5 separate regions of the Homo sapiens genome follow, and all the other regions are linked to region 1. Evidence: fine-mapped expression QTL. A gene starts in region 1. Each other region holds a variant in brackets. All regions are shown on one strand. Distances are from middle to middle.

Region 1 (5,000 bases):
CTTCTCCCCCACTTCCAGCCTTCTCCCCCACTTCCAGCCTTCTCCCCTACTTCCAGGCTTCTCCCCGACAATACACTTTCCACAGAGTAATTGTTAATCTTTTTTTTTTTTTTTTTTTTGAGACGGAGTCTTGCTCTGTCGCCCAGGCTGGGGTACAGTGGCGCAATCTCGGCTCACTGCAACCTCCACCTCCCAAGTTCAAGCGATTCTCCTGCCTCAGCCTCCCAAGTAGCTGGGACTACAGACGCCCGCCACCACACCCAGCTGATTTTTATATTTTCAGTAGAGACAGGCTTTCACCATATTGGCCAGGCTGGTCTCAAACTCCTGACCTTGTGATCCGCCCGCCTCAGCCTCCCAAAGTGCTGGGATTACAGGCGTGAGTCAGTGAGCCACTGCTCCCGGCCTGGTAATCTTTTAAAAACACAAATAGATCATTTCAGTACCCTGCTTAAAACTCTTCAATAGCTTCCCAGTGTACCTGGCATAAGATCTAGACTTCTTCATGGCCCAGCCGACCTCTCTTGACCTTGAGCCATCCAGTTCCTGTCGTGCTCCAGCCATGCCAGCCTCCTGTGGATTCCGAGGACCCACCCGGCCCTCCTCCAACTTCACATCAGCTCTCAATATGCATCCTCTGTATGCCTGAGTCTCTCTCGTTTTTAAGATTCTAGCATAGACAACGCATCCTAGAGATTTTCACTGCCCCTCCCCCTTAGCACTAGTAATCTATAATTGCTTCATTCATTCAATAACAATTACTGAACACCTATCATAGTAAATGTACAGTGAAGATGAAGAAAAAACTGATGTGGTTCTTCCTTCTCCAGGAGAAAAATTCTGTATAGGAATACTTATAAACAACAACAGTGTGATAGGATGGGCTAACAAGAGTCCAGGGCAAATCTGTCCCTTTTGGGGAGTTTTTTGGGATCTCAAGTGCTGCAAGAAGGGAGGAGCAGGTGGACAGGAGTGATCTGAAAGGTAGTGAAGCAGTGAGCCCCAGGCTAGGGGGAGTGGATGATGTCACCTTCTAGGGCCCCCTCTTCCCAGGGAACAGGACTATAAACCTGCAGAATCCTCAACGCTTTTTCTCTCCCTTGCACTCAGGGAACCCAAAAAGAAGCTCAGCACACTCACTAAGAGGAGGGAGAGGAAGTTATACTTTAATAAAAGTATCCAGAAAAATCAAGGTTTCAAAACCTTCACTGAGGTGTATTAATAATAGTAGGTATCATCTATTGAGCCTTTACAAGCGTTTTCCAGTATGTCAAAAATGGCCAAAGGATTATAATCTCCCAATTGGACATACTGCACTATATCAAACCAAGATTCTAAAATCTGCTAAACTGGCCTAACTTATATAGATGAAGATGCCAAAAAAACTGATGTGATTCTTCCTTCTCCAGGAGAAAAATTCTGTATAGGAATACTTATAGTGTATTCTTATGAATAAACTTATTCATATAGATATGTATCTGGACAGATAGATAGATAGATATAAATGAGACAGGCACCTGCGCCTGTAATCCCAGCTACTTGGGATTGGGAGGCTGAGGCAGGAGAATACCTTGAACCCGGGAGGCAGAGGCAGAGGTTGCAGTGAGATGAGATCCCGCCACTACACTCCACCCTGGGTGAGAGTGAGACTGTGTCTAAAAAAAAAATATATATATATATATATATACACACACACACACACACACACACACACACACACACACACGTATATATATATACTTTTTTAATTAAAAAATTTTAAAATGGCCGGGCGCGGTAGCTCTCGTCTGTAATCCCAGCACTTTGGGAGGCCGGGGCGGGCAGATCACGAGGTCAGGGGTTCGAGACCAGCCTGGCCAACATAGTGAAACCCAGTCTCTACCAAAAATAGAAAAATTAGCCAGGCGTGGTAGCAGGCGCCTGTAGTCCCAGCTACTTGGGAGGCTGAGGCAGGAGAATCCCTTGAAGCCGGGAGGCGGAGCTTGCAGTGAGCCGAGATCGTGCCACTGCACTCCATCCAGCATGCGCAACAGAGCGAGACTCCCTCTCAAAAAAAAAAATTAAATAAAATCTGCTACAGTAATCTTTTTTAAAAAAATCTACTATCTCTCTTGTAAACGACACAATCTTTCTCTTTGGCAAAAGTAGAATATGAGGCGTTTTAAAGTGTCTAATTCCAAAATCCCTGCCCCGGCGTGAGGCTCCCGCCTCTAATAGATGCGTGACCCTGGGCCTGTCCCTTCCCATCTCAGCCTCCGCTACTGTCCCGTGGGGCTGGCGGCCCCTGCCCGCCCAGCCTGCTGTAGGGGGGGCCGCGAGGCCTCAAATGGGACAATACTCCTAAGGCGCGGCCTCCTCGTCGCCGAGCGTGACTCTGGGGCCCGGCCTGGCTGAGGCCGCAGATGGGCCGGATCGTCAGCCGCTGACGTCGGGGCCCCGCCCGCCGGGCCTGGCATTTGGGCCGCCCGGTCAATGCCTTCGACGCGGGCTGGGCGATGGGCCGGGGGCAACGAGCGCGGAGGCTGCGCGCAAGGCCCTCTCACCCCGCGGCCTCGCGCGGCCAGAGTCCCTCGCGCGGGCTCACGCGGCGGCGGCCTGGGCCTTCCGGGCGTCCGCGGGGCCGAGGGCGCTTACCCGGGCAGGCGCCGCTTCGGCCATGGCTGCCCGCGTCCCTCGCTGGGTTGCAGTCCCTGGACCCGGCCTGTCGGGCCCGGGGCGGCGCGGCAGCGACGGCGGAAGCGGAGCGGGACCCGCCTAACCTGAGAGCTACTGCCGGGCGGCAGCGAACTGCGTCCCGAGCCACGTGCCCCGCTGGCCCTTTAAAAAAGAGCTGCGCTCGGCGGCCGAGCTTGAGGACGCGCACAGCGCCCCCTGCAGCCCGTAGGACCGCACGCCCGCGGCCGCCGCCCCGCGCCCTCCCGAGGCCTTCAGCGCCCGCGGCGTCCGGGACCCAGGCGCGGCCACCCACCCTCACCCGGGGCGCGGGAGTTGACGCCAGGGCGGGCGTGCCACGGCCTCCAGCGGGGCTACGTCAGGCGTAAGCCACTCCCGGGCCAGCGCGGCGCCCAACCTCTCTCTGCGTCCCACGCGGGAGCCGGGAGGGCTGCGGGAAGGAACCGCGCTGGAAAGTGCGAAACCTCGCGAGGGAAAGCTGCGTGGGGAACGGGGTCGGCCCTCGCCGGGGCTCCAGTCCGGACCGAGACTCTGTTGCAGCGCCTCCCACGCACCACAGAACTGAGTTGGGGAAAGTAAAAAGGATACGTGTGTACCCAGGGAGAAGCCAGGGAAACTTACATGAACGTTTTTAAAGTCTCTTTTAAATTTGACAGAACAAACGTGAAGATGGTAGGATTTTTTTTTTTTTTTTCCTAAGCCTGCCCTCCCCTCCTGAGGACTCTGGGGTCCCTTCCTCCTCCCGGGGCCCGCCTGGTGAAAGTCCTCAGCCACCCACGAGGACCCTTCTGTAGCTTTGGTCCAGGCTGAGATCACAGCAAGTGTGAATCAGTCCATCCCTCATTTAGGCCCTGAGGCATCTTGAATAAACCGCAGGACCCATTTTCCTCGGCCTGTGCTGAGGCATATTGAACTAAATGTGCTGTATGCAGTTGAAGCTTTGTTTTCTGTCTTTTCTGCATTTCCCATTCATCTCACAGTCTTTGTCCAACAAGCTGGCAAACTCTTCCCGCTAGAAATCTGCAGTTTTGTTTCTTTCTGTGTTTGGGTTTGTTTGGGGTTTTTTGGTTTTGGTTTTGTTTTTTCTTTTTTGGGGGGGGGGGGTGAGGGTGAGAAGTTATTTTCACAAATATTTGAGCCAAGCAAAAGCGTGGTCAACTATCAGAAAAAACACAAACTGATATCCTAAGTAAGGTGAACCCCAAAATTTGCGGAAAGGTTAGGACGTGTTACTTTAAGGTAACAAATCAAATAAATATTTGGCATTATTCATTTTGGAAATTCTTGTTGAACTATCCCAATCTAAAACACAAACTGCAAGTATGCACTAAAGACATTAAGAGCATCCCTAGGATCTTATCAGGGATCAGTCCAATCTATTCAGGATTATAAAATACCAGTAAATGGTGACGTTATAGAATAACAGTTAAGGTCCAATGCAAACAGAAAGGGTCAGGAAAATGGGCCAGGAGCCGTGGCTCATGCCTGTAATCCCAGCAGTTTGGGAGGCTGAGGCGGATGGATCACCTGAGGTCAGGAGTTCGAGACCAGCCTGGCCAACATGATGAAACCCCATCTCTACTAATACAAAAAATTAGCTGGGTGTGGTGGTGAGGTACTCTGGAGGCTGAGGCAGGATAATCGCTTGAACCCGGGAAGCAGAGGTTGCAGTAAGCCGAGATCATGCCATTGCACTCCAGCCTGGGCAACAAGAGCAAAACCCCATCTCAAAAAAAAAAAAAAAGAAAAAGAAAGAAAGAAAGGGTCAGGAAAATGGGCTGGAGACAAAAATGCTAGGATTTAATGAGCTCTGTTGAGGAAAGAGTGCTATAATGTTTGACAGCTAGTCTTCGTTTTTTAGAAAAAAAGTTTCTCTAAGTCAGTGGTACTCAAACTTCAGTGTGCATCATGTTCACTGAGGGTTCTTGTTAAAAATACAGGATGCTAGGCACAAACCTCAACATTTCTAGGTCTGAAACAGGAGGGGATGAAAGTGATGCGAATTTGCAATTCTAACTAGTTCCCAAGAAATGCTGATTCTATTGGTCTGGTGATCACAGTTCGAAAACCTTGGCACTGTTTATCAGGGTCCCACAGCTACCTCCCATTCCCATGCTCAGATTTTATAAATATATTTAATAAACGAACACTTTGCACCATAATGTGGTTTCTGAGCAGACCAGCCGGGGTGTCAAGCCAGCTCTGATATAAATTAAAATTACATGGTGGCTTTTTTTTTTTAAGACGGAGTTTCGCTCTTGTTGCCCAAGATGAAGTGCAATGGCACGATCTCGGCTCACTGCAACCTCCACCTCCCAGGTTCAAGA
Region 2 (5,137 bases), 99 kb after region 1:
TTAATTGGTCATATTTTGGCTTGAAACCAGAATTTGAAGTGTGTGAAGACAGAGTGAGAATGAGGTCACTGGAGGAAAAGGGACTGTTCTGAGCCCTCTTGGAGCTGCTGTCACTTCATTCAAAAGGTGTCAACTCAGCCTCACCCATGGAGATGAGAGACTCGTAGTTGCCCTTCATGATATTCTTGTAAAGTTCCTTTTGCCATTCTTCTAATTTTTCCCACTCTGGAGTGGAAAAGTAGATGGAGACATCATCAAATGCCACAGGCACCTAAAATTACAATCACATGGGTTAGTCCCTTCCATTATAATTCAGTCATTCAATAAATCTCTTTCCAATTAGTTCCTTTTATTTTTTTTACATTTTCAAAGGGTGGTCAATAAATATTCTAAATATCTCTGAAATGGTTTCTTTTAATGCTTCACTTGTCATTAGAAAATCCTAAAATCCTAGTACTCATGCAATACAGCACGAGTCCCTTAAATAAAGCTGGTACCTTTTCTTGAGGCACATTCGAGTATTTTGGTAAGCAGTAATAAAATATCTAAATACCATGTATGTTAAAACTTCAAGCTTTATTGAGTCTTTGATTTCACCTCTTTTAAAATGCCTTTTCTCTAAGAACATCACTCTCCAGGAGATCCAAATTCCTCTATTTGTTTTCTTTGTGTTGTTTCTAGTTCCTCTAGTCTTTTGCCAAGTACAGAGTTCCCTTTGATGCTGTTCATCGTGCACATGAGGAGGAAAGGATAATACCATGGCTGATGACTGAGAGCAAACAGGATTGATTTTGGAGGCATGTTAGGAACCAAAATTAAACTTCAAAATTCATTATGTCTTCTGTGTGTATCCTTTAGTCTTTTCTGAAGCTTTGTACATTCTTCAAATGGAACATTTTGTCTATTTAAAACCCAATTTTCTGTTTCCATTTCTTCTCTACCTGCCTCCAAGATTTACACCTTGTCCTGCCATCTCTTCAATTGTTTTCACGGCAAGATTTCCTGTTTTTCTGGGCAACTGCAGCTCACTGCAATTTCTCTTTAGCTTGACTGTACATTTCCCTGAGATACATTCATGAAGCATATGCTTTTCTTCTAACTGCTGTGTCTGTTCTTTTTCCAATGTCTTTTTGACTTCTAGTTAGACTTTCTCAGCTTGATTTCTTATATTTCAGCATTCCTGTTTTAATGTCTCCATCGTTTCTTTCAGCATTCGGTTCGAACTCTGCAAGTGAGGTAACTTGGATCTGAAAACTACTGATTTACTATTCCAGGTCAAAATTTTCGTTTTTTTCTTCCTCTGCATTTTCTTTCTTTCTTTTCTTTTTTTTTTTTAGAGACAGAGTCTCGCTGTACACCCAGGCTGGAGTGCAGTGGCGCGATCTCGTCTCACTGCAACCTCTGCCTCCCGAGTTCAAGCAATTCTCCTGCCTCAGCCTCCCAAGTAGCCAGGATTACGGGCACCCGCCACCACACACCGCTAATTCTTGTATTTTTAGTAGAAATGGGGTTTCACCACGTTGGTCAGGCTGGTCTCGAGTTCCTGACCTCGTGATCCACCTGCCTCAGCCTCCCAAAGTGCTGGGATTACAGGTGTGAGCCACCGTGCCCGGCCTCCCACAATTTCTTTTCACACTGATGCTTTTCACATTGCTTGCAGACATCATGATCCACTTTCATTTTCTATCTGCTAACTTGTTTTCAAATTCTAGCTTTTCATCCTGTAATGCCAGAAGTCTTTTACAACCTTCTTCCTTGGCATCTGGTGCCTTACATATTAATATATGATCTTTTTTTACTAAGGGCACTTTGTGGTGTTCAATAGCTGGTCTCAGAATTTCATTGTCTGACAGTAAACCATCCAGTTCACTTTGAATCTTTTTCCTTTCCCTTTCTAGCTCACTCTTGCTGCCTCTAGTTTCATGGCTGTTATTTCTAGTATGCTTGAAAGTTTCGTTCTTTGACTTTAGTGCTCAGTGTATTTCTTTCTTTCTCTTTTTTTATTTTTATTTTTATTTTTTTGAGACGGAGTCTTGCTCTGTCACCCAGGCTGGAGTGCAGTGGTGCGATCTTGGCTCACTGAAAGCTCTGCCTCCCGGGTTCACGCCCTTCTCCTGCCTCAGCCTCCCAAGTAGCTGGGACTACAGGCGCCCACCACCACGCCCGGCTAATTTTTTGTATTTTTAGTAGAGATGGGGTTTCACCGTGTTAGCCAGGATGGTCTCGATCTCCTGACCTTGTGATCTGCCCGCCTCGGCCTCCCAAAGTGCTGGGATTACAGGCTCAAGCCACTGCGCCCGGCCCTCTTTCTTTTTTTAAGATGGAGTCTTGCTCCATCACCCAGGCTGGAGTGCAGTGACGCTATCTCGGCTCACTGCAACCTCTGTCTCCTGGGTTCAAGCAATCCTCCTGCCTCAGCCTCCCAAGTAGCTGGGATTACAGGTGCACACCATCACGCCTGGCTCATTTTTGTATTTTTAGTAGACACGGGGTTTCACCATATTGGTCAGGTGGGGCTCGACTCCTGACCTCAAATGATTCACCTACCTCAGCCTCCCAAAGTGCTGGGATTACAGGCGTGAGCCACCGCCACCACTCCCAGCCTGGTCAGGGTATTTCTTTCTTGTTCAGTTTTATGTAATCTTTAATGATTAAAAAGGTACTTTGGCCAGGCGCAGTGGCTCCTAGAACTTTGGAAGGCCAAGGCGGGTGGATCACCCAAGGTCAGCAGTTTGAGGCCAGCCTGACCAACATGGCGAAACCCTGTCTCTACTAAAAACACAAAAATTAGCTGGGCTTGGCCGGGCGCGGTGGCTCACCTGAGGTCGGGAGTTCAAGACCAGCCTGACCAATATGGAGAAACCCCGTCTCTACTAAAAATACAAAATTAGCCAGGGGCGTGGTGGCACAGGCCTGTAGTCCCAACTACCTGGGAGGCTGAGGCAGGAGAATC[G/T]CTTGAACTCGGGAGGCGGAGGTTGCGGTGAGCCGAGATCACACCATTGTACTTCAGCCTGCACGACAAGGGCAAAACTCCATCTCAAAAAAAAAAAAAAAAAATTAGCTGGGCATGATGGCGCATGCCTGTAATCCCAGCTACTCAAGAGGCTGAGGCAGGAGAATCGCTTGAACCTGGGAGGCGGAGGTTCCAGTGAGCTGAGATCACGCCACTGCACTCCAGCCTGGGCGACAGGAGTGAAACTCTGTCTGAAAAAAACAAACAAACAAACAAACAAAACAGGTATTTTGTTCATTGTTTGATTGTGGCTCTTTTTCCGAGCATTTAACCTACAGTTTACGTGACATTTTTGGCCTACTGGGACCTGACTGTAACTGCATCTCAGCCAACTGTCACACCTGTATTCTTAGGACGTTTTCTAACTGAGCACCAGAATTCTCTTTTTCAGCCGTTAAATCTGCTACTTCAGCCTCTGAATGAATATATATATATTTTTTGAGACAGACTCTCGCTCTGTTGCCCAGGCTGGAGTGCAATGGCACGATCTCAGCTCACTGCAACCTCCGCCGCCCCCCTCCCCCCACCCAGGGGTTTGCCATGTTGGCCAGGCTAGTCTCAAACTCCTGACCTCAGGCGATCTGCCCACCTCGGCCTCCCAAAGTGCTGGGAGTACAGGCGTGAACCACTGTGCCCAGCCAGCCTATGAATTATTTTAATTTCTGAAACAAATGGACTTTTTCTCAAACAAGTTCCTCTACTCATTTGTTGCCTCTTGTGGGATCAACACTAAGCAGCTGGTTATATAGTTCTACATCTTTCCCCAGTCTTGCAATCTATAATTCAGGCCAGGTGCACTGGCTCATGCCTGTAATCTCAGCACTTTGGGAGGCCAAGGCAGGAGCATCACTTGAGGTTAGGAGTTCGAAACCAGCCTGGACAACATAGTGAGATCCTGTCTGTATAAAGAAATTTAAAAATTAGCCAGCTGTGGGGCCAGGCACAGTGTCTCACACCTGTAATCCCAGCACTTTGAGAGGCCGAGGCGGGCGGATCACGAGGTCAGGAGATCGAGACCATCCTGGCTAACATGGTGAAACCCTGTCTCTACTAAAAATATAAAAAAATTAGCCAGGCGTGGTGGCAGGCGCCTGTAGTCCCAGCTACTCGGGAGGCTGCGGCAGGAGAATGGCGTGAACCCAGGAGGCGAAGGTTACAGTGAGCCGAGACTGCGCCACTGCACTCCAGCCTGGGCGACAGAGCGAGACTCCGACTCAAAAAAAAAAATTAACCAGCTGTGGTAATGCACACCTGTAGTCCCAGCCACTCGGGAGGCTGAGTCAAGAGTCTCACTTGAGCCTTAAGGCTGCAGTGAGCCAAGATAGCACCACTGCACTCCAGCCCAGGCGAGAGCAAGACCCTGTCTTGAAAAATATATAAATAAGTAAAAATAAAAATAAATCTCTAATTCAAATTTTAGAGTTTTTTTCTAAACTACATGTAAATTCTTCTTCCTAGTGTTTCAGATTCTATTTAAGAAATGTATGTTTATAGCAAAGCTTGCAGCTCTATACTTTTCCACTTCTTCATCCCAATTGCAAAAACACTGGAGTTTCTAATTCTTGCTGTATTTGGGCTTTTAACAATTCCCCTTTTTTTTTTTTTTTGGAGTTAATTACCTGCAGCTTCATTTCTTCTAAGTCCTTAGCTTTTCTACTAATTCCCCTCTTAGTTCTTCAAGCAGGAGCTGAAGTTTTTCCTGGTATGTTTGCTTTTCATTTAATAGGCACTTGAGTACTTTTTGCGACTTTATGTACTCATCCTGCCACCTTGTATGCTTGTATGTTAGGCATTCAGAATCTGGTAACTAGTTGTTTTTGGTTTTGGTTTTGTTTTGTTTTGCTTGTTTTTAAGACAGGGTCTCACTCTGTCATCCAAACTGGGGTGCAGTGATGTGATCATTGCTCACTATAGCCTCGACCTCCTGAGCTCAGGTCATCCTCCGATTTCAGCTTCCTGAGTAGCTGGGACGAGTCAGGAAGTGACATGCCACTATGGCGAGTCAATCTTTAGAAACATAATTTTTGTAGGGATGGGTCTGGCTATGTTGCCCAGGCTGGTGTCCTACACCTGGCCTCAAGCAATCCTCCAACCTCAGCCTCCCAAAGCCCTGGAATTACAGGC
Region 3 (5,137 bases), 27 kb before region 1:
GGCTACCCTGGGAGGGGCCTGGGGTTGGGTGGGCGGCCAGCAGAGAGCCGCTTAGCTTTACCCATGACCTCCACATTGCTTAGTAAGAACATATTCGTGTAAGAATCCATTTGCATAATCAAAACATAGACACTTTCAATGGCTAGAGGCGGGTCACCTTCTGTTCAGAGGGATCTCTGAGCCGTGATTTTCAAACTAACGGCACCAGAATCACGGGAGGAAAGTGTTGAAAGTCCAGTGCCCAGACCCTGCCCGTACCTAATGAATGAGCAGCCCGTTTACACTGCTTCTAGAATTCTGGCAGCAACAGCCTGCCTGTGGAAACATCCAACAGATAAAGCAGTCATGCACCCACACTGTCTGGGGCCTGCACGCAAAGGGTTTAGAAGCAGCTTTTAGGAGTGAAGCCCAGTCCTTGGGGGTAAACAAAGCTCTCTCCTGGAGAAATCTGGAAAAGTTTACAGAGAATGGAAAACAAGAAGTAACTGCTAGAATGGCAAGGACTACCCAGACCGTAGGGCAACCCTAATCCCCTGAGCAGGTCTCATTCCTCCACCCACCACGCTTCCTTGAGCTGCCTTCAGGTGCAAGCCCAGCCTCATGGCAGAGCCGTGCCTGCAGCTCTTTGGCCAGGCCCTGCCTGCTGCTTTGCATCCCCCTAGGAGCTGCTCAGCCCTGGGGACTGTGGCACCGGCCACAGCCTCTGAACATGCCCCAGTCCTGCCCACACCTGCTGCAGGGGGCCAGCCCAAGACGGGGGTGGCTGCAGTGCCTGGGCTCAGCTCCCCTCCCTGCACCACAGGGGAGGAGCTGTTGGCCAGGCTGCTGCTGTAATAGCGCTCAGTGACACCACAAGAGCCACGTTCAGTGACACCACAAGAGCCACGCTCAGTGACACCACAAGAGCCACGCTCTGCCCAGCTGGCCTCTCGCTCAGGGCTCCCCAGCTTGGGCTATGTGACCTGCATCCTGCCACACCCCACCCCTTACTCAACCCTGCTCTCTCTCTGGTGCCCCTGCCCCCTGCAGGTGCCTGGAAATGCCACTTTTAGCCTTGGACCTACATGCCAGCCACTCAGTACCCCTGTCAACCCCCACCTTCTTCCCCACTCTGGGCTCACTGTGACTTAATTTACCTACTCAAAGAGTCTGCTTCACAGGGGAGCCTTCCTCCCCAAATCTAAGAATCTAGAAAGCAAGCAGCAGTATCTTGGCATGATCCACTGTGTTCTGAGCAACCAGCTCCAGGGTTCCTGTCCTTCAACTAGAATGGTCCCATTGTCCCCATGTTATATGTTTCTGGTTGTCACTGGAATAAAGGGTTCTCACCTTTAAAAAAAAAAAAAAACTGCATTCTGATCCAATGCTATTATTTGAAAAATGGAGGAAACTGAGCTTCTATTCTGGTTCACTGTTCATTTAGTAATTATATATTATTTATAATCTCAGTACATGCCAGGCACTGTGTAAGGTGCTAGAGGAGGGGGATAACACAGCAAGACTCAGTCCCTTCACCCAAGGAGAGTGAAGCCTGGAGAGGAAGCAGGGATTAGGCTGCAAAGTGAGGAGGACATGCACGCAGGCACCAAGGGCCCTGGGAGCAGATGCAGTGTCAGGGCAGGTCTCACGGAGGCCGCCAGCCCGTCGCTCCTCCCGGAACCCTGCATGCACCAAGACGGCCTGTCTCAGGTTCCTGGTATCTGCTATGCCCTCTGCCCTTCCCCTCAAGCCTCCAGACTGGTCTCAGGCCAAGCGATGGCTCCAAAGGGACATGGAGTATGGGAAATGGCCCAGGCCCTCTCTGGGTGTCAGAACACCCGGGTCTGGCCCTGACCACCAGCTGTGAGGCCCAGCAGTTCACTTCCCCCCACCTCTGCCTCTCTTTCTCCAAGGGGGCCTTCTGACACCAGATGCCCTTACCAGATGCAGGTGGAGAGGCCCAGGCCCACACCCTGAGGGACTCACCAGTGCCCGGGCTCTGGCCCCTCTCCGCACTGGGCAGGCTGCAGTTGCCTGCCTGTCTCCTTTCTCCACTGGTGCCAGATCTGGCTTGGTGGTGGCCTGGCCTGTGGGGAGGAAAAGGGCAGTGGCAGGGCTGTCCTCTGCAGGCCTGGAAAGGGAGGGTGTTCTGCTAGGCTTGGAGCAGCCTCTTCAAGGCGTGTGTTGAGGGGCATGGAGAGTAGGGTGGGCAAGGCCTCTCAGTTTTCGTGGGCTAGAAGTGAGTGCCATGAGGCCAAGAGGAAGGGTTCCCATCCACTGCCCACATAGACAAGTCACCTAGTCCAGACAGATGAGGAAACTGAGGCCCAAGAGTGGGTCTGGCCATCCATGGCAGTCAGGCTCAGGCTTCCTGCTGCCCTTCCTTCCACGTGCTTCTCCTTCCTCGCCTGAGGCCGGACAGCCTCCTCACCCTGCCTCCCACAGCACACTGGGACCCTTTTCTGAAGGAGGAACCTCTGCAGCCAGGCAAAGAGAGGGAAGGCACTGTGTTCTGGGCCTCAGCCTCCCAACAAGGGGAGAGACTGGACAAAAAGCCAACTGCTCACCTGCCCAAAGCAGTGAGAATTCCAGGTTCACGCAGGAGAGCTTCGGAGTGGGGTAGCTACAAAAACCCAGGTCTGATCAAGTCTCACACGAAGACGCACACCTGCCTGAAGGAGCGAACTTCCCAGGCCTGGCCCTGATTTTCTGGACCTGGGGCATCCTTAAAAGCAGGCCTGGCCAAGCCTGGTGGCTCACTCCTGTAATCCCAGCACTTTAGGAGACCGAGACGGGAGGATCGCCTGAGGTTGGGAGTTCGCGGCCAGCCTGACCAACATAGAGAAACCCCGTCTCTACTAAAAATATAAAATGAGCCGGGTGTGGTGGCCCATGCCTGTAGTCCCAGCTACTCAGGAAACTGAGGCAGGAGAATCACTTGAACCCGGGAGGCGGAGGGTGTGGTGACTGAGATCACGCCATTGCACTCCAGCCTGGGAAACAAGAGCAAAACTCCGTCTCAAAAAAAAAAAAAAAAAA[AG/G]CAGGCCTACAATTCATCCTTCTTTGCTCAGCAGGAATCTCCTGAGAACTCAGTGTGCAGAGTGCAGCGTGGGAGTCCTAGAGATGCAGATGTAAACCAGGGGAGGCCCCAGCTCCCCAGGAGCAGATAGGCTGGTGAGCCACAGGTGTGCACGCAGGAGCTGCCTCTGGCACCACGCGAAGGGCAGGACAGCGAGGAGCAGATTCCAGTTTATTTACTCCAAGAAATCTGGAACAAGTCACATAACCTCTGCATTTCATTACATAAAACTTCAAAATGAGAATGACAGATACCTTCTACCTGCCTGAAGACAGAGGGCTGAAGAAATGATCTCCACATGCTTCCTGCTCTGAGATTCAGGAGTCTCATGTGATTGAATAAAGGAGTAAAACCAAGGTGTGGAGGCCCCCAGAGGCCAGCCTCTCACCCAGGAAGCTCAGGGTGTCGCAGCTCCCCTTCACAACACATTTGCAGAACTCCTTCTATGAGTCCTCCAGGCCGCCACCCTGCTGCTCTGAGAAATACCCGACCGTGTCTTCAGGAGTCACAGGCACCTGGAAGTACAAGTTGCCTGCACCCACCATGAATAACAACCATTTCACGGAGCAGCCAAAACCAACTCGTCCCCTCTCCCTTCCCCCGAAGCAGAGGGCATCGCAGGCCAAACTACTAAGCAAATGCAAACTCAACTCCATCACACTGCCTTCAGCTAAAGGGCAGAACCAGTGACTAATGGGATCTAGGATCGGGGCTCCTGGGTTCTCCCCTCTCCCAGGCACACATATCTCCTACTTGTGCCAGTCCTCACTCTCAGAGACCATGTACAACCACTGCTGCACAACCATATCTCTCCCAACAAACCCCATTCCATCTTCCAAAGCAGACATTTTTCTGTGTCACAATTTTCTTCTGACATTTTTCAAGCCCTTTAAAGTCAACTAGTGACTGCCTTGGACGCCCAGAGGTCAGGCTTCAGCAGCCAAGGGTATGCTGCTGTGGCGACGCTATGCATATGGCCACCCTACAGAGTCCAGGCAGGGCCTCTCCTCCTACACCCAGCTCCTGTACCTTGGGGGCCTCCCCCTTGCTGCCCGGGGGCAACTGCAGGATCCAGAAGTTCCTGTTGCACAGCAGGTTCTCCACGTTCCCCAGCCACCTCTGCAGCAGCCCGTACTCCTGCAGCAGGGTCCCCAGCACGGCCCACTTGCCTCCAGCTGGTTCCCGAACTCCACAGCCACCTTCTCGCAGTCAGCCAGCTTCTTCTTGGCTGTCCACATGCATCCCTCCAGGCTCTGTAGCCAGGCAGCCTGGGGTTCCATCTTCTTCTCCACCACCTGAACAGCAGCCACGATAGCCGGAAGGGAGATCTCTGCAGATCAGATCTGGGCCTCTCCCTGGAGGTCAGTCCGCAATGCCAGTCCTGCAACCAGACACAAGTTCGCAAGTCAGCCACCAGAAGGAGAGCAGCCCAGAGCCATTCCCAAATACAGGAAGGTCAGGATTCTCCGGAATGGGGGAGACGTCTTCTGAGTGCCAGGCGGCCTCACTGGTCAGACCCCCAAACAGACCCCACCTAATAGTCAAAGACAGCAGACACTGGACCGCACAAAGCCCCCACGAGAAGAATCCTGAACCAAGAGCCGGGGCAACGGAAAATGACATAACTAACATTACCATCATAAATGAACAGAGAGTGGATCCCAGCTCTACCACTCACTGGCTCTATTTACTCAGCCAATTACTCAACCAACTAGGGAACACGGCCAGCAGCAGGAGCCAAGAAATGGTGAGAAGCCCAAGTCCAGAACACCTGCCAGGGGACCTGGGGTCCAGTGCACACACACCCAGGCAGCAATCTGACTCCTCACCTTCTTCTAGAACAAGCCCACACCCCTTAGTGGGCTCAAGGGGAGAAAGGCCTGTTGTTCTGCCTTGGTGATTTCTAAGGCCCATCCACCCTGACATCTACTGGTGTGACTTCCTGCCCCGCCTGATACCACATCCCCATGATCCAGGTGCCTTGTCAACCAGCCCCAGGGTGGTCTCCACCCTCCTAGCTGCCAGGCAACAGGGGCCAGAGAAAGTTGAAAGCAGAAAAGGAAAGAACAAAGAAACATT
Region 4 (5,104 bases), 20 kb after region 1:
CATCAACCAATAGACATGGGAATGCACACATTTTCATTCCCAATAGGTTTTTATTTTTGCCTCCTCTCTTTTGTTTTCATTTTGTCTCTACACTTTGATATTATATACTGATAGATATATGGATTAAAAAAATCATTTCTGGCCAGGTGCAGTGGCTCACGCCCATAATTCCAGCCCTTTGGGAGGCCAAGGTGGGCGGATCATGAGGTCAGGAGATCGCGACCATCCTGGCTAACATGGTGAAACCCCATCTCTACTAAAAATACAAAAGAATTAGCCGGGCGTGGTGACGGGCTCCTGCAGTCCCAGCCACTGGGGAGGCTGAGGCAGGAGAATGGCATGAACCCGGGAGGCGGAGCTTGCAGTGAGCCGAGATCGCACCACTGCACTCCAGTCTGGGCAACAGAGAGAGACTCTGTCTCAGAAAAAAAATAAAAATAAAAATAAAAATAATCATTTCTGTACCTGTGCTTCCAATATAATATCCACTAGTCACATGTGGCTGGTTAAATAAAATTAGCCGGGCACAGTGGCTCGTGCCTGTAACCCCAACCCTTTGGGAGGCCAAGACAGCCGGATCACTTGAGGTCAGGAGTTCAAGACCAGCCTGACCAACATGATGAAACCCTGTCTCTACTAAAAATACAAAATTAGCCGGGTGTGGTGGCACATGACTGTAATCCCAGATACTCAGGAGGCTGAGGCAGAAGAATCACTTGAAACTGGGAGGCAGAGGTTGCAAGGTTGCAGTGAGCCAAGATTGCACCACTCTACTCCAGCCTGGGTGACAGAGTGAGAGTCTGTCTCAAAATAAATAAATAAAATTTAAAACTCAGTTCCTCAATCATACTAGCTAACATTTCAAGTGCTCAAAAGCCACATGTGCCTAGTGGCCACTGTATTAAACAGTGCAGAGCAGAACATTTCTATCATCTTGGGAAGTTCTACTGGATGCACTACACCCTTATAAGTCTTTTCTATTTGATAAAATACTAAGGTTGTATTAAAATCTCCTATTATAACAGTGAATCTTTCTCGCAATTCTGTCAGTTTTGTTTTATATATTTTTAGGCTATGTAATTAGGTGCATACAGGTTTAGAAATTTTGTATCTAGCTGGTAAATTGAGTCTTTTACCATTACAAAAGTAGTAGGAGCCTTCTATCTCTAAAGATACTAAATATATTTGTCAACTTTATTTTCATTAGTATTTGCTTGGCATATTTTTTCATGACCTTTTATATTCAACTGTTTCTATATCCTTATCTTTTAGTTGTATCTCTCTCTCTCTCTCTTTTTTTTTTTTTTTTTTTTTTTTTTGAGACGGAGTCTCACTCTGTCACCCAGGCTGGAGTGCAGTGGCGCAATCTTGGCTCACTGCAACCTTTGCCTCCCAGGTTCAAGTGATTTTCCTGCCTCAGCAACCTCCGCCTCCTGGGTTCACGCCAGTCTCCTGCCTCAGCCTCCCAAGAAGCTGGGACTACAGGCACCCACCATCACATCTGGCTAATTTTTTGTATTTCTAGTAGAGACGGAATTTCACTGTGTTAGCCAGGATGGTCTCAATTTCCTGACCTCATGATCCACCCAACTTTGCCTCCCAAAGTGCTGGGATTACAGGCGTGAGCCACCACGCCCAGCCGGTTGTAACTCTTTTAAACCATCTAGTTGGATTTTTCCCCCATCCTGACAATCTATGCCTTTTAACTTGAACATTTCATTCATTTACATTTATTGTAATTGTTCATTAGCTTTGATTTATTTTTACCTTTTTTGTGCTATTTATCCCATCTTTCTTCTCTACTTTCTTGTCTTCTTTTACATTAATTTTTTCTTATTCCATTATCCCCCTTTCTGATCTGTAAGTTATACGACCAATTTCGAGTTGTTTAGCAAGTATCCTAGAAATTATGGGAAACATACATAGAAGGCCCTTTAACAAAGCCCTTTAAACACTTTAGTTCTGATCATCTCTTCCTCATATTTACATCAATGCCATCATGTATTTTAATTGTTTTTAACACAACAAGAAATTGTTACGTTTTATTAAGTCACTATTTGTTTAGATTTAACCATTTCCATGCATCATCACATCTTCTCATATTTTCAGACTTTCTATTTGGGAAAATTTTCATTTTACCTGAGGTATATCTTTTAGAATTTCCTTTTCTAAGAGTGTATTGGTAGCAAACTGTCATTTTTAATTTGTCTAAAAATGTCTTCTTTACATCTTTGTTTCTGAAACATTTTTGCTGCATATAAAACTATGGGACCACAGTTACTTTCTTTCAGCCTATTGACAATATCATTCTACTTTTGCCTAGCTTCCATGGTTGCTGTTGAGAAGCTGGCCCCCATTCATTTTGCTGTACTTCATTTCAAGGTAGTCTTTTTTTTTTTTGGTTGCTTTTAAGAATTCCCTCTGCCTTAGGCCGGGTGCGGTGGCTCATGCAGTGGTAATCCCAGCACTTTGGGAGGCCGAGGCAGGTGGATCACCTGAGGTCAGGAGTTCAGAGACCAGCCCAGCCAACACGGTGAAACCCCATCTCTACTAAAAATACAAAATTAGCCAGGCATGGTGACGCATGCCTGTAATCCCAGCTACTCCGGAGGCTGAGGCAGGAGAATCGCTTAGAACCTGGGAGGCAGAGGTTTCAGGCAGCCAAGATTGCTCCACTGCACTCCAGCCAGAGCAAGAGAGCGAGACTCTCTCAAAAAAAAAAAAAAAA[AAAG/G]AAAAGAAAAGAAAAAGAAGAAAAGAAAGAAAAGAAACGAAACTATGGCCAGGCACGGTGGCTCACGCCTGTAATCTCAGTGCCAAGGTTTAACAACTTACTTTGCAATCATCTGAAGGTCAGACCTTACTTTCAGTTCACCCTTACACAGAATGTTACCCTTTGAACTCTCTGCTTCATGGGATTGGGTTAGGGAGCTTCTTAGACTTTCCATCTTAGGCTCTGAGATGTGTGTTCCATTTTGCAGGTCCCTTGAATCATAAACACCAAAGATGAATGTTTGGCCAATGCCCTCAAAGTTGGCTTCAGAACTCTATCACTTTCGAGTTTCCTCTTTCGCTTAAGTTTTGGGGCTCCAAGTATTCTTTACTAAAATACATTTCAAATGCATTTATGTGCAGGGTTTTCCAGCATTTTCAGTTGTTTCATCAGGGCACCTACTTGAGCTTACTGTTAAATGACAGACACCTGAAATGTCTGAGAAGAGAAACAGGCTCAAGAACAATTTGAATAAGTTCTACAACGACAGATTCATGTTATTTAAGGCATAGTTTGGGATTGTGGTGGACTTTTTTTTTTTTTTTTTTTTTGAGACAGAGTCTTGCTCTGTCACCCAGGCTGGAGTGCAATAGCACGATCTCAGCTCACTGCAACCTCCACCTCCCAGGTTCAAGCGATTATTCTGCCTCAGCCTCCCGAGTAGCTGGGTCTACAGGCACCCGCCACCACGCCCGGCTAATTTTTGTATTTTTAGTAGAGACCGGGTTTCACCACATTGGCCAGACTAGTCTTGAACTCCTGACCTCGTGATCCGCCCTCCTCGGCCTCCTAAAGTGCTGGGATTACAGGCATGAGCCACTGCGCCTGGCCTGTGGTGGACCTTTAAGGCTTCTTCCTAACAAGGTCTACTGACGACATGTAGGTAATTGTGGAGTGACCTGGCAGGAAGAACTGTGGCAGAATCCTCTCGCCGGACTCTAACACTAACTAGATCTTGTGGAAAAGCCAAGTCTTTGACTGGCTCAGCCTAGCTTATAGGAGTCAGATGAGGTTAATATTGTAAACATTTGTGTCTTGTCTTCCCAATTCAACTGTTAACTTCCTTGAAAGCAAATACTGTGTTCTCTAAGTCTCCCAATCTCTCCGTTCTTAGTTCTTAACGCACTTTCTACAAGAATCAAATATAGCGCACCCTGCTCATGGTCAAATTTTCCCCACAGAATTTCCTTAGCCCTCCATTCTCACAAAGATCTAACATGATTCTCGAAGTGTTTCTAGACCAAGGAACACTTCATTAAAAGTCAATTCAATTCCAGCTGCCCCTTCCGTTGCAAACCCTCTGGTGTTGTTAAATTAACCACTACTTTGAAACAGTATGGGAACAGTATGAGAATGTCGGAGCTGGAAGGAAACTTAAAGCCTTGGAGATCATCTAGCAACTACTCCAACACTCTCGATTTACAGTTAAGAAAACGAAAGAGACCCAGAGAAGCGAACACAGTTGCCTAAAATCACCCAAATGGACAGCTGAAAGCTTCGTGACTCCACAAATAGGATTTTCCTCACACCAAACTCCGTATCTTGACATTCCCAGAATGGGGATGGTCGGTGGGCTGGGAGGGGGGTGTTGGGGGGGGGGTGAAGGAGAGAGTTTGGGCAGCTCTACAAACAAAATGCAGCAACTGCACTGTAGATAACATCCGTCCCCAAGGAGAAGCAGCCCAGGCTGACTTCAACCTGTGGCTGCAACCCCCAGACAGAAATCTGCAGCACTGGAAAAACCGACAACACATCGGACCGAAGAGGAGGTGGTCGCAGAGAGGCAAGTCCTGGGGTCTCCCGGGCAGCGGGAGAGCTCACTCGTAGCGACGGAGACCGTTTCCAATCTGGAAACACTCCAACCTGGGAACGGGCTCTTTTGGCACGAAAGAGAAAATGTGTGGGCAGGGTCACAAATCCACCAACCTAAAGCAAGCGTCAGAGAAGTTTCTGGGCAAGGGCGCACGGCGCCGAGGCTCCGACCCCGCTGCAGAAGGAAGCGGAGGGAAAAAAGGGCAGAGCACTGGGGTCGCGAAGAGGAGGGTCCGCGTTCACCCGCGCCAACGGCAGCCCCGGGAAACCAAGACCCCGGCGGCGTCCAAACCGCGAAGCCCCGCCCCCGGCAGGGGACTCCGCCATCCCCAACGCGCCCTCGAGCCAGCGCGCCGGTGCCTCTTTACCCGAGCAGGCGCCGACTCCGCCATGGCTCCAGTCGCCCCTCAACACCCAGACCCCGCCTCGGAGCCCCCGTGCTGCGTTCCTGTCCGCTCGGCGCCCCAGAGCCTGTTGGAAGCCGCCGCCGCCGCCGCCGTGTTGATGCCAGGTGCATTCTGG
Region 5 (5,137 bases), 42 kb before region 1:
TGTCACGGGGCACAGCCCCACAGGCTACGAATGGATTTTACCCTTCTCAATGGCTTGGTTGGGGGGATGGGAAATGGGCCCTCATGGGACTTGGGGAAAAGTAAATGAAACAATTGTTGTTGTTTTTTAATGGCACAGAGTAAGTGTTCAATAAATATTTGCTGTTGCTTCAAAAAATATTTTGTGGCATGCAAAAATTATATGAAAATCAAATTTCAGCATCCATAAATAAAGTTTCCTTGGAACACAGCCACTCTGGTTCATTTCTTTGGTGTCTGTGGCTGCTTTCCTGTTAAAAAGGCAGAGCTGAGTGGTTGCCAACAGAGACTATTTTGCCTATAGAATAACAAACATGTACAATCTGGCCCTTTTCAGAACAAGAGTCTGACTCCAGGCTTACAGCCTTAGAGTGGTGCCTGACCCATAGCAAATGTTTCATAAACGATGGCTAGTGTTGTTATTGCAGCAGAGAGTAAGCACGGCTCACTGGAGAGCCTAGAGTTCCCTGCCTCCCATTCCAGTTTCCCTGACTTTCTGGCCTCATTCACAACAGCTGCAACCCCAGCTCCCTCTCCTCCTCCAGCCTCATTCTCCAAGACCTCCAGGTAAACTCCTTTAAGATGCTAAAAACTACAAAGTCTGATACCACACTAGGGATTCAGGGTGTATGGGGAACAGGCATGTTTCTGCGTTGTTGGTAGGAGTGTACACTGATACAACCTCTAAGGAGGCACCTGGCAAGAACTTTTGAAATGCTAAAAGCACATAACTTTGACCCAGGAATTACACTTCTAGAAACTAAGAGGTCTATAAACACAATTGTGAAATGATGTCTGCAAGGTTATTCTGTAGCCACATCATTTTAAATTATAAAACATTAGAAGCAACCTAATTGTCCCTCATCTGGGGACTGTTAAATAAATTACATACAGCCGTACAATTGAATGCCAGGCAACCCTTTACAAATGGGGATGCTCTTTATGTACTGATAGGGAAAGATTGCCAAGAAGAAACAGAAAAGCAAGCAAGGAAAATGTGTTTCCGCCATAGCCTGCTACTGTTTGTAGAGGGGAAGAAAAGGGGAGATGACATGTTTGCATTTATGTCATGAAAAAACTCTAGAAAGATCTACAAGAAACTGGGAACATCAATTGCTTGCGAGGAGGGGACATGGGTGGCTGGGGACAAGAGTGAGAGGAGATACCATTGTTTCTGTGCCACTGGAATTTTGAACCATGTAGATATATTATTGTGTCAATATTTTCTTACCTTTCTAAAAAGGAAGAGAATGTAACAAGAACAAAAACTCACCGGAGCCTAGGTGTCACCCCTTCTGTGATGGGGTCACACCTCATCTCCTTCTCTGCCCCCTTCCCATTGGGCCTCTATGTTCCCACACAAACATGTACCTTTTTTCCTAACAAAAAGTAAATATAAAATACTAAAACACCCACAATATTTTTTAAAAATACTAGGAGTGGCCGGACATGGTGGCTCATGCCTGTAATCCCAGCACTTTGCAAGGCCGAGGCAGGCGGATCACCTGAGGTCAGGAGTTCAAGACCAGCCTGGTCAACATGGTGAAACTCCGTCTCTACAAAAATACAAAAATTAGCCAGGCATAATGGCGGGTGCCTGTAATCCTAGCTACTCAGGAGGCTGAGGTGGGAGAATCACTTGAACCCAGGAGGCAGAGTTTGCAGTGAGCCAAGATGGCACCACTGCACTCCAGCCTGAGAGACAGAGTGAGACTTCGTCTCAAAAAAAAAAAAAAAAAACAGGAGTAATATGATTCCCAAACCCAGTTGTCTGTATATTATAATAAAATACAAATTAAAAAGGACACATACTTGCAATGTCCAGGAACCCTACGTTAAATTTCCCAAAACACTGACTCTAGCATGAGTGTAGTGATTTGTTTCTTACAGGCATCCCCGCTGGTCTAAGCCTTGGGGACCCTGCCTTACTTGCCTTGTAGCCCCATCACCTAACACATAGCACATGACTCGGGCTCAGCAAATATTTCTGGAAAGATAAAGGCCAATCCAAGCCCCTGGA[G/C]GGACGCCTTCTCCCGCCAGCAAAAAGAGTTAGTACCTCCTGGGGCCCACAGCGTTCAGCAAACCCCCAGGAGCATCCACACAGAGAAGAATCCTGTGGGGTGGTGCCGGCAGCCTCCACGCAGCCCGAAGGAAGCTGCAGCTGGTTCACCGTGTCCTATGAGCTGTTCACTCTCCAAAACATCAGCAATTGACCCACCATGAATCCACTCAGGCTGCCATAACAAGACGCCACAGACTGGATGGCTTCAACAACAGACATTTATTTTCTCACAGTCCTGGAGGCTGGAGGCCCAAGATCAAGGTGTCAGTGGTACTGGTTTCTCCTAAGGCCTCTCTGTGGTGTGCAGGTGGTCACGTTCTCACTGTGTCCTCACACGCCTTTCCTCTGTGTGTGCCCATCCTGGTGTCTTCCCCTTCTCATAAGGACGCCAGTCCTCTTACATTGGGGCCCCACCCTAACAGCTTCTTTTTAGCTTCATCACCTCTCTAAAGGCCTCATCTTTGAATATGGTTACATTATGAGGTACTGAGGTTTGGGACCTCAACATATAAATTTGTTGGGGGGTGGGGGTGGTGGCTCACACCTGTAATCCCAGCACTTTGAGAGGCCAAGGCGGGGCAGATCACTTGAGGTCAGATGTACGAGACCAGCCTGGCCAACACAGTGAAACCCTGTCTCTACTAAAAATGCAAAAATTAGCTGGGCGTGGTGGCACCCGCATGTGGCCTCAGCTACTGGAGAGGCTGAGGCAGGAAAATTGCTTCAGCCCAGGAGGCAGGGGTTGCAGTGAGTCGAGATTGTGCCATTGCACTCCAGCCTGGGCGTCAGAGCGAGCCTCCATGTCAAAAAAAAAAAAAGGGAGGGGGAAATAATTCAACCCATAATGCACACAAAATGAATCTGGTCATGCTGTTGCCTTCCAGAAACTTTTCTTGGTTACTGTTATGGACTGAATGTCTGTGTCCTCCAAAATTCATATGGTGAAGCCCTAATCCCCAAAGTGATATTGTTTGAAGGTAGGGCTTTTAGGAGGTAATTAGGTTTACATGAGGTCATGAGGGTGGGGCCCCAGGGTGGGATTAGTGCCCTTACATGAAGAGAGACCACATCTCCACATCTCTCTCTCTCTCTCTCCTTTTCTCTCCCACTCTCTCTCCCTCTCTCCCCAACATGTTGAGGATGTCTGCAAGCCAGAAGAAGAGCCCTAAGGAGAGCCAGGAGAGAATCTGCCCACATCTTGATCTTGGACTTCCAGCTTCCAGAACTGTGAGAAATAAATTTCTGTTGTTCAAGCTGCCTAGTCCATGGTATTTTGTTTTAGCAGCCCGGGCTGACCAATACCGTCAACACAGTACTTTTTGTTGTTGTTTTGTTTTTGTTTCTGCTTGTTTGTTATCTAGCACTAACATTTTAAGATGGCAAGGGTAAAATGGGATTTTCCACATTTTCAATCCTCTCCAACCCTTTTGGAAAGCAATTTTGGCAATATTGTATTTATTATATTGACTCAGTCATGCCACTTCTGAGAATCTATTTTAAATAAATAAACACCCATGAAAAATAAGAAACCTAAGATTATCACTGTATTATTTTTAATTTAAAACTAGAAAAAAAACTCTAAATGTCTAGTAGTAGGGGAATGGTTAACAGCATTCACTTAGTGGAATGTTATGTTGCCATTTGAAGAGATCAGGTAATGTTTATGAAGCATCTCCTCTGTGCCAGGCTCTGTGCTAAACAGGATAGATGCAGAGATGAAGAACATGGTGCTTGCTTTCAAAGAATTTACATTTTAGTAGAAACAGACACAAAACACTCATTTCATAATTCAAATATTTAGTAAGCACCTACTATGTGCCAGGCATTATTCTAGGTACTGGGCATCAAGCAGGAACAAAACAACATCCCCATTCTCATGGAGTAGATAATAATCAAACAGGCAGGGCACAGTGGCTCACGTCTGTAATCCCTGCACTTTGGGAGCAAGAGGCAGGAGGATCATATGAGTCCAGGAGTTCAAGACCAGCCTGGGCAACACGGTGGGACCCCATCTCTACAAAAAATTCAAAAATTAGCCAGGTGTGGTGGCATGTGCATGTGGTCACAGCTACTTGACAGCTGGGGCAGGAGGATTGCTTGAGCCCAGGAAGTTGAGGCTGCAGTGAGCTGTGTTTACACCACTGCACTCCAGGCTGGGTGGCAGAGGGAGACCCAGTGTCAAAAAATAAATAATTTTTTTAAAAAGATAATAATCAAATAATTAATGTCAGGTGCAAATCTGTGCTGTGAAGACACATAAGGCAGAGTGGGGGAAAGAGAAGGGGCCCCAGCAGCAAGTAGGGTGGTATTTTAGATGGAGCATTCAGAGGTGACATCTGCAAGTGATCTGAAAGGAGCGGGGAGCAAGCCATGCGAATGTCTGAAGGGAAGGGCTCTCGGGCAGAGGACCAGCGAGAGCAGAGGCCTGGAAGCATGGCCAGCGTGGCCAGGTAGAAAGATGGGCCGTTTACCCTGGCCATGAGGGAGGCCCCCAGTGGGCAGTGCAGGGAGCCAGGGGAAGGCCTGGCTGTGGAGCATGATGTTTGAGGCAGGATGGTAGCAGAGGTGGCGGCGGAGGTGGGTGGCTGAGGCCTTTGGACGGGATTCACGCCTTGGAGAGTCCCTGAAGACATTTACTCATTCTTTGAGACCGAGCACAAGCGTCATGCTCCTGTGAGCTCATCCCTGACTCTCTTGACGGCCAGTCTACCCTTCTCCCGGGTTCCCACATCAACGTGTAGTCTATTTCATTATTGCTGCTTTGTATTGGATTCGAGCCATTCAAGCCCTTCACACATCTAACGCATGCACGTTCACACACATCTCAGAGCATGGACTCTCACTGCAGATCCCGCATATTTGATATATCTAATGTACAGGACTTAGCATGGAAAATGCTACTGAAATGAATTATTGAATACATAAACTCACATCCCCCAACTGCACTGTGATTTCATAGTAAAAGAGCAGGACTCTGTCTGGAACTCCTGCTCTATTCAGCAGTGCCTGGAACAGGTGATACTAACACCTCTCAAGT

Which allele goes with the higher level. Positions count from the first base shown, and alleles are read on the strand shown. Sizes are in standard deviations (SD) of each study's normalised expression. Not every link is listed here.
In carriers of allele T in region 2, the expression in tibial artery of the gene that starts at base 2,796 in region 1 tends to be lower than with G alone (small effect, 0.37 SD a copy in GTEx).
With allele G in place of AG in region 3, the expression in B cells of the gene that starts at base 2,796 in region 1 is higher (moderate effect, 0.63 SD a copy in Fairfax 2012).
For the expression in skeletal muscle of the gene that starts at base 2,796 in region 1, AAAG is the high allele of the variant in region 4 and G is the other (moderate effect, 0.52 SD a copy in FUSION).

The links.
Region 2: its variant is fine-mapped to the expression of ZNF783 in tibial artery (GTEx, PIP 0.99).
Region 3: its variant is fine-mapped to the expression of ZNF783 in B cells (Fairfax 2012, PIP 0.95). The same link has a PIP of 0.9 or more in monocytes.
Region 4: its variant is fine-mapped to the expression of ZNF783 in skeletal muscle (FUSION, PIP 0.93).
Region 5: its variant is fine-mapped to the expression of ZNF783 in whole blood (GTEx, PIP 0.99).

What each region holds. Positions count from the first base shown.
Region 1 is chr7:149,259,992-149,264,991 of GRCh38, reverse strand. It overlaps ZNF783 (zinc finger protein 783), which reads right to left and starts at 2,796. Exons shown (of 6, transcript NM_001195220.2): 1 at 2,635-2,796. The coding sequence starts at 2,658. It overlaps LOC124901769 (a long non-coding RNA gene), which reads left to right and starts at 2,651. Exons shown (of 2, transcript XR_007060582.1): 1 at 2,651-3,345. RefSeq lists a silencer at 2,329-3,198.
Region 2 is chr7:149,161,292-149,166,428 of GRCh38, reverse strand. ZNF398 (zinc finger protein 398) reads right to left here. Exons shown (of 6, transcript NM_170686.3): 3 at 145-271. It also overlaps the pseudogene LOC100420549. Among named protein-coding and RNA genes, the nearest start is that of ZNF398, 16 kb to the right of the region's middle. RefSeq lists an enhancer at 4,829-4,978. The variant G/T (reference allele first, on the strand shown) is at 2,954.
Region 3 is chr7:149,286,867-149,292,003 of GRCh38, reverse strand. It overlaps the pseudogene LOC155060. Among named protein-coding and RNA genes, the nearest start is that of TRC-GCA1-1, 21 kb to the left of the region's middle. The variant AG/G (reference allele first, on the strand shown) is at 3,019.
Region 4 is chr7:149,239,649-149,244,752 of GRCh38, reverse strand. It overlaps ZNF212 (zinc finger protein 212), which reads right to left and starts at 5,102. Exons shown (of 5, transcript NM_012256.4): 1 at 4,951-5,102. The coding sequence starts at 4,974. RefSeq lists an enhancer at 5,041-5,104. The variant AAAG/G (reference allele first, on the strand shown) is at 2,729.
Region 5 is chr7:149,301,849-149,306,985 of GRCh38, reverse strand. No RefSeq gene overlaps it. Among named protein-coding and RNA genes, the nearest start is that of TRC-GCA1-1, 5.8 kb to the left of the region's middle. The variant G/C (reference allele first, on the strand shown) is at 2,059.